Linked DNA regions of Homo sapiens. The protein of the gene in region 2 interacts with the protein of the main gene of each other region in a pairwise test. Each region holds a gene or a part of one and is shown on either strand. Other genes may lie near its edges. The genes, in order: PIAS4, SERPINA5 and RIDA.

Region 1 (3,724 bases), on a different chromosome or scaffold from region 2:
AGCCAAAATCGCGCCACTGCACTCCAGCCTGGAAGCCTGGATAACAAGAGCTACACTCAGTCTCAAAAAAAAAAAACAAAAAAACACCTGACTTAACTTCCTGCTCATGCTGGACACCAGAATAAATTCCTAAGGCGGGCGGTGTAAACCGGGGACCCCCAGCTCCTGGGATTCACCTACTTTCTCCCCCTCCAATTCAGGGTGTGGATTTCAATGTATGCAGCCTTCTGGGACCTCAGCAGGGCAGAGGATCATGGGACACAGAGTCTCTTGGGGATACGTGGAATCCCCTAACCCAGGGAGGTCTCGCCCGGGTTATCCTGCCCTAGGGGACACTGGACAATGTCTGGGGACATCTGTGGTTGTCACAACAGGGGTGTGTTCTTGTCATGGCGTGGGTGGAGGCGAGGAATGCTCCTCCGCTCCCTGCAATGCCCAGGATGGGCCCAGGAGGGCAAGACCGTGTTAAAAGGGCACAGTCAGTCCGCCTCTCTCTAGCAGGCTGCAGGGCACAGGCAGTGGGCACACAGGCCAGCACCTGAGACCCAGGATGGGGTTTTCTGGAAGGAAGCAAACCCGGCCACTGCCTTGCAGCACGGTTCTGGACTGAGCCCGAGCGAGGCCTGCAGTGGACGTGGCTGCCGGCTCTCCCCAGTGAGCCCAGGAGAAAGTGGGTGGGCGGGCGGTGGGGTGCTGGGCTGGGGGAGGTGCCGCACACCTGGAGTTCCGGATCAACTCCACCTGTCTTGGCGTCAATGCGAAGATGCACGGGCTCTCCTGAAGCTTCTCGTTGTTCTGTGGGACTGAAGACAAACACGGGGTCAGGGGCATGTCTGGTCCCTGGCAGGTCCCCCGAGCCCAGTCGCTTTTCCCAGCCTGCGCCTCTTCAGACCAGGAAACAGGAAATGGGAAGTTGGCTGGACAGATATGTGGGGCAGAGGTGGGGGCCGCCCAGGAAGGAGGATGAGGGAGGACTCCCGCCCATCCCCTTCTCGGGGCCGCTCACCATGGCCTGTGTCCTGTTGACGGCCACTCAGATTGCTGGGTGACCTTCGCAGCCTGTGGGATGCAGGCGTCTACTTAGGAAACCGAAAAGTGCCGAGCTGCCTGGCGGGGAGAGCTGGACCCAGCCAGGCCAGCAGGACACTGCCATACCTCCTCTCTCCTGAGCACAAACCGGACCCGGCCCTTGCTCTCCTCCTGCCTGCAGGGTGGCCACGTCACCCGGACAGAGGTGGTGCGGGGGGTACTGACGGGATGAAGGCCATGGTGCTCACAAGCCTGGGCCCTACCCTCTTACTTACAACTGGACTGACAGGCAGAGGCGCAGTCAGAAAACATTGGTTTTTGTTTGTTTTGTTTTGTTTTGTTTTGTTTTGGAGATGGAGTTTTACCCTGTCGCCCAGGCTGGAGTGCAATGGCACGATCTCGGCTGACTGCAACCTCCGTCTCCCGGGTTTAAGCGATTCTCCTGCCTCAACCTCCCGAATAGCCACCAAGCCTGGCTAATTTTTGTATTTTTAGTAGAGATGGGATTTCGCCATGTTGGCCAGGCTGGTTTCGAACTCGTGACCTCAGGTGATCCGCCCATCTCAAACTCTCAAAATGCTGGGATTACAGGCGTGAGCCACTGTGCCCAGCCAGCCCCATTTTTTTTTTTTTTTTTGAGACTTTGTTTCACTCTTGTTGCCCAGGCTGGACTGCAATAGCACAATCTCAGCTCACTGCAACCTCCACCTCCTGGGTTCAAGTGATCCTCCTGCCTCAGCCTCCCAAAACAGCTGGGATTACAGGCATGAGCCACCACGCCCGGCTAATTTTCTATTTTTAGTAGAGGTAGGGTTTCTCCATGTTGGCCAGGCTGCTCTCGAACTCCCGACCTCAGGTGATCTGCCCACCTCGGCCTCCCAATGTGCTGGAATTACAGGCATGAGCTACGGCGCCTGGCTGCCGCATCTCTTAAAAAAACAGCAGGGTGTGGTGTCTCAAAAAAAAAAAAAATAGCCAGGCCTGGTTCGGGCGCCTGTAATCCCAGCTACTTGGGAGGCTGAGGCAGGAGAATTGTCTGAAGCTGAGAGGCAAAGGTTGCAGTGAGTGGAGATCACACCACTGCCTGGGCGACAGAGTGAGACTGTTTCCAAAAAAACCCAAAAAAACAAAAACAAAAACAAACGGCCAGGCGCGGTGGCTCACGCCTGTAATCCCAGCATTTTGGGAGGCCGAGGGGGGTGGATCACGAGGTCAGGAGATCGAGACCATCCTGGCTAACACGGTGAAACCCCATCTCTACTAAAAATACAAAAAATTAGCTGGGTGTAGTGGCAGGCGCCTGCAGTCCCAGCTACTAGGGAGGCTGAGGCAGGAGAATGGCGCGAACCTGGGAGGCGGAGCTTGCAGGGAGGCGAAGCTTGCAGTGAGCCAAGATCGTGCCACTGCACTCCAGCCTGGGCTACAGAGCGAGACTCTGTCTCAAAAAAAACCACCAAAAACAACAACAACAACAAAAAAAACAAAACTCTAGCTGAACAACAAAAAGACAGTGAGAACACAAACTACCAATATCAGAAATGAAAGAACAATAGTACAGACCCTACAGCTTTTCGGTTCAATAGGGGAATAAAAGGTGAAACTTTATGCCAATGAATCTGACAACTTAGTGACATGGACAAATCCTCCCAAAGATGCAAATTACCAAAACGGGTACCAAAAGATACAGGAAGTTTGAAAAGCTCTTTACCTGTTAAGGAAGTTGGATCCATAATTAAAACCTTTTCTGAAAACTGCAGGTCCAGATTGGGCATGGTGGCTCATGCCTGTAATCCCAGCACTTTGGGGGCTGAGGTGGGTGGATTGCTTGAGCCCAGGAGTTTGAGGCCAGCCTGGGCAACAAAGTGAGACCTTGTCTCTACAAAAAATTTTTAAATTAGCCAGGTGTGGAGGTGCACACCACCTGTAGTCCCAGCTACTTTGGAGGCTGAGGCAGGAGGATTGCTTGAACCCAGGAAGTGGAGGCTGCAGTGAGCCATGATCGTACCACTGCACTCCAGCCTGGGCAACAGAATCAGACCCCATCTCAAAAAAAAAAAAAAAAAAAAAGAAAAAGAAAATGCAGGTCCATATCGGTGAATTCTATAAAACATTTTGGAAAGAAACCACATAAACCGTACATAAACTCTTTCAAAAAACAGAGAAGGAAAGCATACTTCTTATTTTACAAGGCCAGCATAACTCTGATACCAAAACCTCACAACTCAGCATCAAGGAAGGAAAATTCCCGATGAATACCCCTCATGAACACAGATGTAAAATCCTCCACAAAATATCAGCCAGTATTTCAGGCCCCTGCGATTTGTGTAGAAATCCAAGACCGGTTTAAATCCTCTCTACACACCCAGGCCAGGTGCGGTGGCTCATGCCTGGAATCCCAGCACTGTGGAGGCGAGGCAGGTGGATCACTTGAGGTCAGGAGTTCAAGACCAGCCTGGACAATATGGTAACCCCATCTCTACTAAAAATACAAAAATTAGCCAGGCATGGTGACACACGCCTCTAATCCCAGCTACTCGGGAGGCTGAGGAGAATCGCTTAAACCCAGAAGGCGGAGGTTGCAGTGAGCCGAGATTGTGTAACTGCACTCCAGCCTGGGTGACAGAGTGAGGCTCTGTATCAATAATATAAAATGAGGTAAAATAAAATAAAATACCTCTCTACACACCCACTAGCA
Region 2 (3,500 bases):
AGCAAGTCCACAATCTTGCCCTTCGTTTGCTTTGCCACATAATCATTGATCTGCTTCATGGCCCCTGCAGAGTCCCTAAAGTTGGTAGGGAAAGTGTCTGCCAGGTACAGCGTCTTCATGGCACTTACGAAGGTGTCCTGCAGGTCTACCACCAGGTCGGTGAAAAGGGCATTGCCGAGGCTCAGCTGGAAGCCATCTCTGGGCTGGTTGAGTTCCTGAAGGAGCTGCTGAAAGCCTCTGTGCAGCTCCTTCTCTGAGCTTTTCTGGAGGTTGAGGCCCAGGCCCTCCAGGATCTGCATCTTTGTGCTGGACCCAGCCCCCAGGGAGAGCATGGCCAGGCTCATGGAGATGCTCACAGGGGAGAAGAAGATGCTCTGGCTGGGGGCAGCGGAAGCCAAGGCCCTGTAGAGGTCAAAGGTAAAGTCCCTTCTGCTGCTGGGGGCCACCGTGGCACCTACATGGAGGTCCTCGACTCTCTTCTTCATCTCCCGGGGGTGGTGGCGGTGAAGGGAGGCCCCCTGAGGGCTGAGAAGCACCAGGCACAAGAGGAGGAAGAGCTGCATGGTGGCTGTTCTTTGTTCTGAAAGGGAAAGAAGGTGTCCTCAGAGAGGGGTGGAGCTGGTCCAGGTGCTGACTTTCCAGAGATGTCCCCACCCAACACTCAATGGGTATGTTTGGTCCATTCAGCTTCAAAGAGAAGGGATGGCACCCGCAAGACTGGGCATGAGGGTTTACACAGGGTGGCAGTGGCTCGAGGACAAGATTTAGGGATGACGGGGAGAGGAAGGAGGGAGAGGAGGTGCAGACCCAAGGCAGGGGTCTGGCTGCCAGGGCAGGAATCCTGTCTACCCATCCACATCAAGGGACACATTTTGGAGGATGGGATATGGAGGGAGAGGGTTCCCTCTGCTCTGCTCTGTCTCATCAGCATCTCGAGGTTACCAGGGAACTAAGCTGCTTCCATGTGAGCTTCTGGCCTTCACTCTGGTGTCCTGGTTTGGCACATGGCAGGGCGCTGTGGTCCTTCTATGAACTCAGACCAGCTACATGCCTGGGACCATCAGCACTGCTGGCCTTGCCCTGTTCATTCAGCAAACGCTGAGTGAGTGTCCACCCTGGGGTAGGCAGAATACCAGTATGCAAACTGTCCCCTTCTCCTTCCCCCAGGGGCTGCTCCATGCCACCCTTGTCCCACAGAGAGACATCTTCCCCTCCTAAAGGAATTCTGCCTGAACCTCTTCATGTGGACATCCCCACCGTCCTCCTGTTCTGGCTGAATTGTGCCCCCAAAATGCATATGCTGAAGTCCTTACCTTCAATACCCCAGAATGTGACTATATCTGGAGATAGGGCTTTTAAAGAGGGGACTGAGTTAGAATGAGGTCACTAGAGTGGGCCCCAACCCAATATGACTACGTCCTTACACAAAAATTAAAAAGAGGAGATCAGGATAGAGACATGCACAGAGGGAAGACCAGGTGAAGACAGGGAGAAGGCAGCCACCTGTGAGCCAAGGAGAGGGGCCTTGGAAGGAACAAATCCTGCTGGTGCCTTAATCTCAGACTTCCAGCTTCCAGAGTTGTAAAGAAAGAAATTTCTGTTGTTGAAGCCCCCTAGCCCCTGGGACTTTGTGACAGCAGCCCATGCAGGCAAAGACATCTTTTCATCTTCCAGATGAGGAGGCACTCATCTTTGTCTCTAGCTCTTCTCAGGGAGGCCTTTGTGGGGTCTCCCATCACTCCTGACGTGGCCTTGGCCTTCAGTCCTCCTCTTCCTCCCTCCACTTCACCCAAGAGCCGTTCCTGTGCCCATGCCTCCCCATCTGGCTACGGGTAGAAGTCTTGCCTCCTCCCTCTGCAGTAGGAAACAGCTCAGGCTCTGAAGCCACTGCCTGGGTTCAAATCTCAGCCCTGCTGTGTCCTTGTAGTGTGATTTTGGGCAAGTCAGTTACACCTTGAGCCACTGCTCCATAACTGTAAGATAGTGATAATAACAGCACCTACACCATGGGGTGCTTGGGGGCACGTGCTATGGAAGTGTGAGCAGTAGGCATGGCAGTTTCTGGCAAAAGCCCCATCTGAGGCCTCCATATTCTCAACTGTACCATAGGGTACATGCTTTACACACACACACACACACACACACACACACACACACACACGTGTGAGCCTGACAGCACCCAGGCTGGCTAATTACCAGGTGCAGAGGGCCTGCCTGGCTTCTGATGTGAGCTTTGCCCTGTGTGTCGCCTTGGAGGGAATCCCTTTCTGCTGGGCTCTCTCCATGGGCACAATGTCATCAGTGACCCCAGATCCCCACCAGGCAGGGGCAGCCTGTCACAGCATCCCGTGACCCAATTAAAACCAAACTCCAAAGGGCCCCAAACAGGTGGGTGGGAAATCCCTTGCAGAGTGGCCGTGGGGCTCAGCAGTGGAGAGAGAATGGTCTCAGGAATTGGGCAGGCTTGGACTGCAGGCCTGTCTTTAAGTGAAGTTGAATAGCTCCAGCAGGTCACCCTTGCCAGCCCAGCCTCCAAATTGTGTCCTGAGCTCCTTCCGAGAAGGAGCCTCATGTAGAAGTTTCTGCCTGCAGAATCGAACCTGGCACCAAACCCAGCAGCCACAGCAGTTGGGCGCATTGCCCGCACCCTCTTTCAGGCACTGTGCCAACTCCTTCAGCCCTGCACCACCCAAAAAGGTACATCTTGCTGCTAGCTCTATTTTACAGATGGGTAATCCGAGGTTCAGAGAGATGGAGTCGCTTGCTAACACTGGCAAAGCTTGGACTCAGACTCGGTTATCACTCTGACTCTGCAGAGTCCTGCCTCCTCTGCAGAGTCCTGCCTCCTCTTTTCCTGGCTGCATCTTCCTGATTTTGAAATCCCTGACTTAGTAGCCACCAACAATAGCCCTAATCTGCAGATAATGAGTGAGCAGAGTCTGGGCTTCCCCCCACTGACACTCCCTACCTGTTCCCACCATGGCACTTGCCTGGAGAGCTTTGAAGGACATAGGTGGGTGCTTTAATCTCCGGCTTCTCTAAATGAGTCTATTTTACAGCACAATATGGTCCCTCCTGCCAAGGGTTGGAACCAGCCATGTATGGAGATGCTTCTAAAGAAACAATGTGGCTCAACCCCCCACAGGGTCACACTGAGCTGATAATTTCGAGAACAGCTTCAGAAGCAGGGGAGTTTCCTTATTGGATACAGCCCAGGGGCAGCTGACCAGAGAGTCTCAGTGAGGCCCTGGCCTCCATTCTCCCATCTATTCAGCTACTAGGTCACCCTGGGCAAGCCTCACCCCCTCTGGGCCTCAGTTTCTTCATCTGCAGTCTGCCATGTGTTGTGGACACCCCCTCAAGACCCCGCCCCCTGCCAAGCACTAGAGATCCGATGGGGAGGAGCTGCTTCTCCGGGTGTGCACTGAGTCTCCCCCAGGATCTGTTTGGAGAGGGCCCCAGGTTCACTTAGGCTCTCCTGGGCTACATGTTTGAGACCC
Region 3 (3,724 bases), on a different chromosome or scaffold from region 2:
CCATGGTCCAGTCACCTCCCACCAGGTCCTACTCTCAACATGTGGGGATTATGGGCATTACAATTCCAGATGAGGTTTGGGCAAGGACACAGCCAAGCCATATCAGAAGTGGACCCTCAAAAGTATATCCTTAATTGATCCTCCAATAAGCAGTGACTAATCTTGTCTGAAGATGACTACTTATGTTTTTAAAAGTGCTCTTGAAATTGCATTTTTTTGCTTTACAGCTATATTGAGGTATAAGTTACTTATAAAAGTTACCCATTTTAATGGCTGGGTGTGGTGGCCCACGACTGTAATCCCAGCACTTTGGGAAGCGGAGGCAGGCGGATCACCTGAGGTCAGGAGTTCAAGACCAGCCTGGCCAACATGGCAAAACCCCATCTCTACTAAAAATGCAAAAATTAGCTGGGCGTGGTGGCTCACACCTGTAATCCCAGCTACTTGGGAGGCTGAGGCAGAATTGTTTGAACCCGGGAGGCGGAGGTTGCAGTGAGCCAAGATTGTGCCACTGCACTCCAGCCTGGGTGACAGAGTGAGACTCCATCTCAAAAAAACAAGTCACCCATTTTAATTAAGTGTAGTGTTCCATGAGTTTTAGTAAATGTATAGAATCATGCATCCACTATAATAGTCAAATTTTAGAATATTTCTATCACTCCCAAAAAATTCCCTTGTACCCATTTATGATCACCCCTGGCCCTAGACAACAATTAATAATCTGCTGCTGCTATTTTCTTTTCTAAGGTTTCATTTAAGTGAAATAAGACAATATATAGTCCTTTGTTGGATCTATCAGTGGGTGCATGTGTGTGTGTCTTGCTTTTTTGCTATAAATAATGCTATTCTGAACATTCACGTAAACTCTTTGGACATATGTTTTCATTTCTCTTGGATAGTTGCCTAGGAAAGAAATTGCTGAGTTGAGGCTCAAGCCTGTAATCCCAGCACTTTGGGAGGCCAAGGCAGGAGGATCACTTGAGTCCAGGAGTTTGAGACCAGCCTAGGCAACATAGCAAGACCTCATCTCTACAAAAAATAAAAATAAGTAAATAATAAAATAAAAAATTAGCCAGGCATGGTGGTGCACACCTTTAGTCTCAGCTACTTAGGAGGCTGAGATGGGAGGATCACTTGGGCCTGGGAGGTCAAGGCTTCAGTGAGCCAACATCCTACCACTGCACTTCAGCCTGGGTGACAGAGCAAGATCCTGTCTCTAAAAGAAGAGTTTGCTGGGTTGTATGTTAAATATATGTTTAAATTTTTAAAGAAACTGCCAAACTATTTTCTAAAGTGGCTGTACCATTTTGCATTACTACCGACAATGTATGAGGGTTGCTCCCCATCATTGCCAATGCTTACTTTATCAGTGATGTCTTAGTGTGTGGTTTTGCTTTGCATTTCTCTAATGACTACTAATGTTGAGCAAATTTCATGTACTCTAACTCTTTGTATATTTTCTTTTGTGAAGTATCATTTGCTCATATTTTATTGGGTTTGTCTTCACATTATTGACTTTTAAGAGTTCTTCTTATATTCTGGATATAGGTACTTTATTAGGTATATGTTTTGCAAATATTTTTCTCCCAATCTATGACTTGCCTTTTCTTCCCCCGACCCCTTTTTTTATTTTGGGTCTTTCTCTGTTACTCAGTGCCACTGAGGCTGGAGCGCAGTGGTATACTCATGGCTCACTTCAGCCTTCAACTCCTGGGCTCAAGCAATTCAATCACCCTAGCCTCCTGAGTAGCTGGGACTACGGGTGTGCGTCACCATACTTGGCTGTTTTTTATTGTTTTTTGTAGAGACTGAGTGGTTGCCCAGGCTGATCTCAAACTCCTGGTCCCAAGCGATCCTCCTGCTTCACCCTCCCAAAGCACTAGGATTACAGCACCCAGCCCCTTTTCATTTTCTTAAAGATATCTTTGATAAACAAAAGTTTTCAATTTTCATGAAGTCCAATGTATCTGTTTTTTTTTTTTTACAATTTATACTTCTCTGTCCTATCAAAAAAGTCTTCTAGCATTGAATTTTATGTTTTATACTTACATAAATACACTAGCTTTCTGTTTATTGCAGTCAAGCTGTATTAGTCGACAGGACCATTTACATTTCAGGACAGATAGGCATGGACCCTTCAAGTGGACAGCTTGTGTCAGGAGGGGTAGCAGAAGAAGCTAAACAAGTAAGTTATTTTCCACATTTAAGGTTCCCTTTTCTACTACCTTTTTAATGTTGAAGAGCATTAAGAATCCACTTGCCTGATTTGTTTTATAGAGATTAACAGATAAATGTTTTTTAAACTACTTACTGCTTGATTTAACATAGTTTTTGATCTAAGAGTTGGAAATTTGATGGATCATGAATCATCTAACAACCAAAAGAGAGATTCCACCTCCTTAACACTAAGGTGACCTTAAACCTGAATTATTGACGTCAGATGACATGTTGCCACTTCCACATGGATTGGGAAATTTTCTTCTCAGGGCCACTGACCTGCCCCTCTTCAAAAAAAAAAAAAAATTACCACCACAGAAGTAAAAAGTCAACATTTTTAAAAATAAGAATGGGGAATATAATTTTAATCCAATAAATATAATTAAACCATAATTTAGGCCAGGCACGATGTGGCTCACACCTGTAATCCTAGCACTTTGGGAGGCCGAGGCTGGCAGATCACTTGAGGTCAGGAGTTCAAGACTAGCCTAGACAACATGGTGAAACCCCATCTCTACTAAAAATACAAAAATTAGTTGGGGGAGGCCAGGCACAATGGCTCACACCTGTAATCCCAGCACTTTGGGAGGCCGAGGCGGGCAGATCACCTGAGGTCAGGAGTTCAAGACCAGCCTGGCCAACATGGTGAAACCCCGTCTCTACTGAAAATACAAAAATTAGCCAGGTGTGGTGGCATGTGCCTGTAGTCCCAGCTACTCGGGAGGCTAAGGCATGAGAATCGTTTGAACCCGGAAGGCGGAGGTTGCAGTGAGCTGAGATTGTGCCACTCCACTCTAGCCTGGGCAACAGAGCAAGAACCCTGTCTCAAAAAAAAAATAGAAAAAAAAAGTAACCCAGTCAGGTGGCACATGCCTGTAGTCCCAGTTACTCAGGAGGCTGATGCAGAAGAATCGCTTAAACCTGGGAGGTGGAAGTTGCAGGAAGCCAAGATCGTGCCACTGCACTCCTGCCTGGGACACAGAGCAAGACACTGTCTCAAAAAATAAAATAAAATAAAACAATAAACTATAATTTACTGCATTTACTGAGTCATATAATGCTGAAAGTTTGTTTTGTTTTGTTTTGTTTCTTGAGACAGCCTTGCTCTGTCGCCCAGGCTGGAGTGCAGTGTCGTGATCTCAGCTCACTGCAACCTCTGTCTTCCAGGTTCAAGCAATTCTCTTGCCTCAGCCTCCCAAGTAACTGGGACTACAGGCACACGCCACCACACCTGGCTTATTTTTTGTATTTTTAGTAGAGACGGGGTTTTACCGTGCTAGCCAGGATGGTCTCGATCTCCTGACCTCATGATCCACCCACCTCAGCCTCCCAAAGTGCTGAGATTACAGGCATGAGCCTCCACACCCGGCCTAGCTGAAAGATTTTTAAAAACCTAAATATCCACTCATAAAGAACTGGTTGAATAAATTATGCTAGATCAATACAACTAAAGTAATGTGGAAAGATCTCCGAGGTAAATTGTTCCATGGTAATAAAACCAAGATGC

What was found.
Region 1: the proteins of SERPINA5 (region 2) and PIAS4 interact in a two-hybrid assay, tested with the Homo sapiens proteins (one large-scale study listed by BioGRID and IntAct).
Region 3: the proteins of SERPINA5 (region 2) and RIDA interact in a two-hybrid assay, tested with the Homo sapiens proteins (one large-scale study listed by BioGRID and IntAct).

The regions. Positions count from the first base shown.
Region 1 is NC_000019.10:4,021,115-4,024,838, reverse strand, and holds part of PIAS4 (E3 SUMO-protein ligase PIAS4), read right to left. Parts: intron 804-3,724; coding exon 719-803; intron 1-718.
Region 2 is NC_000014.9:94,584,426-94,587,925, reverse strand, and holds part of SERPINA5 (plasma serine protease inhibitor preproprotein), read right to left. Parts: intron 581-3,500; 5' UTR 564-580; coding exon 1-563. UniProt on the Homo sapiens protein: Heparin-dependent serine protease inhibitor acting in body fluids and secretions. Inactivates serine proteases by binding irreversibly to their serine activation site. Involved in the regulation of intravascular and extravascular proteolytic activities.
Region 3 is NC_000008.11:98,107,107-98,110,830, reverse strand, and holds part of RIDA (2-iminobutanoate/2-iminopropanoate deaminase), read left to right. Parts: intron 1-2,079; coding exon 2,080-2,185; intron 2,186-3,724. UniProt on the Homo sapiens protein: Catalyzes the hydrolytic deamination of enamine/imine intermediates that form during the course of normal metabolism. May facilitate the release of ammonia from these potentially toxic reactive metabolites, reducing their impact on cellular components.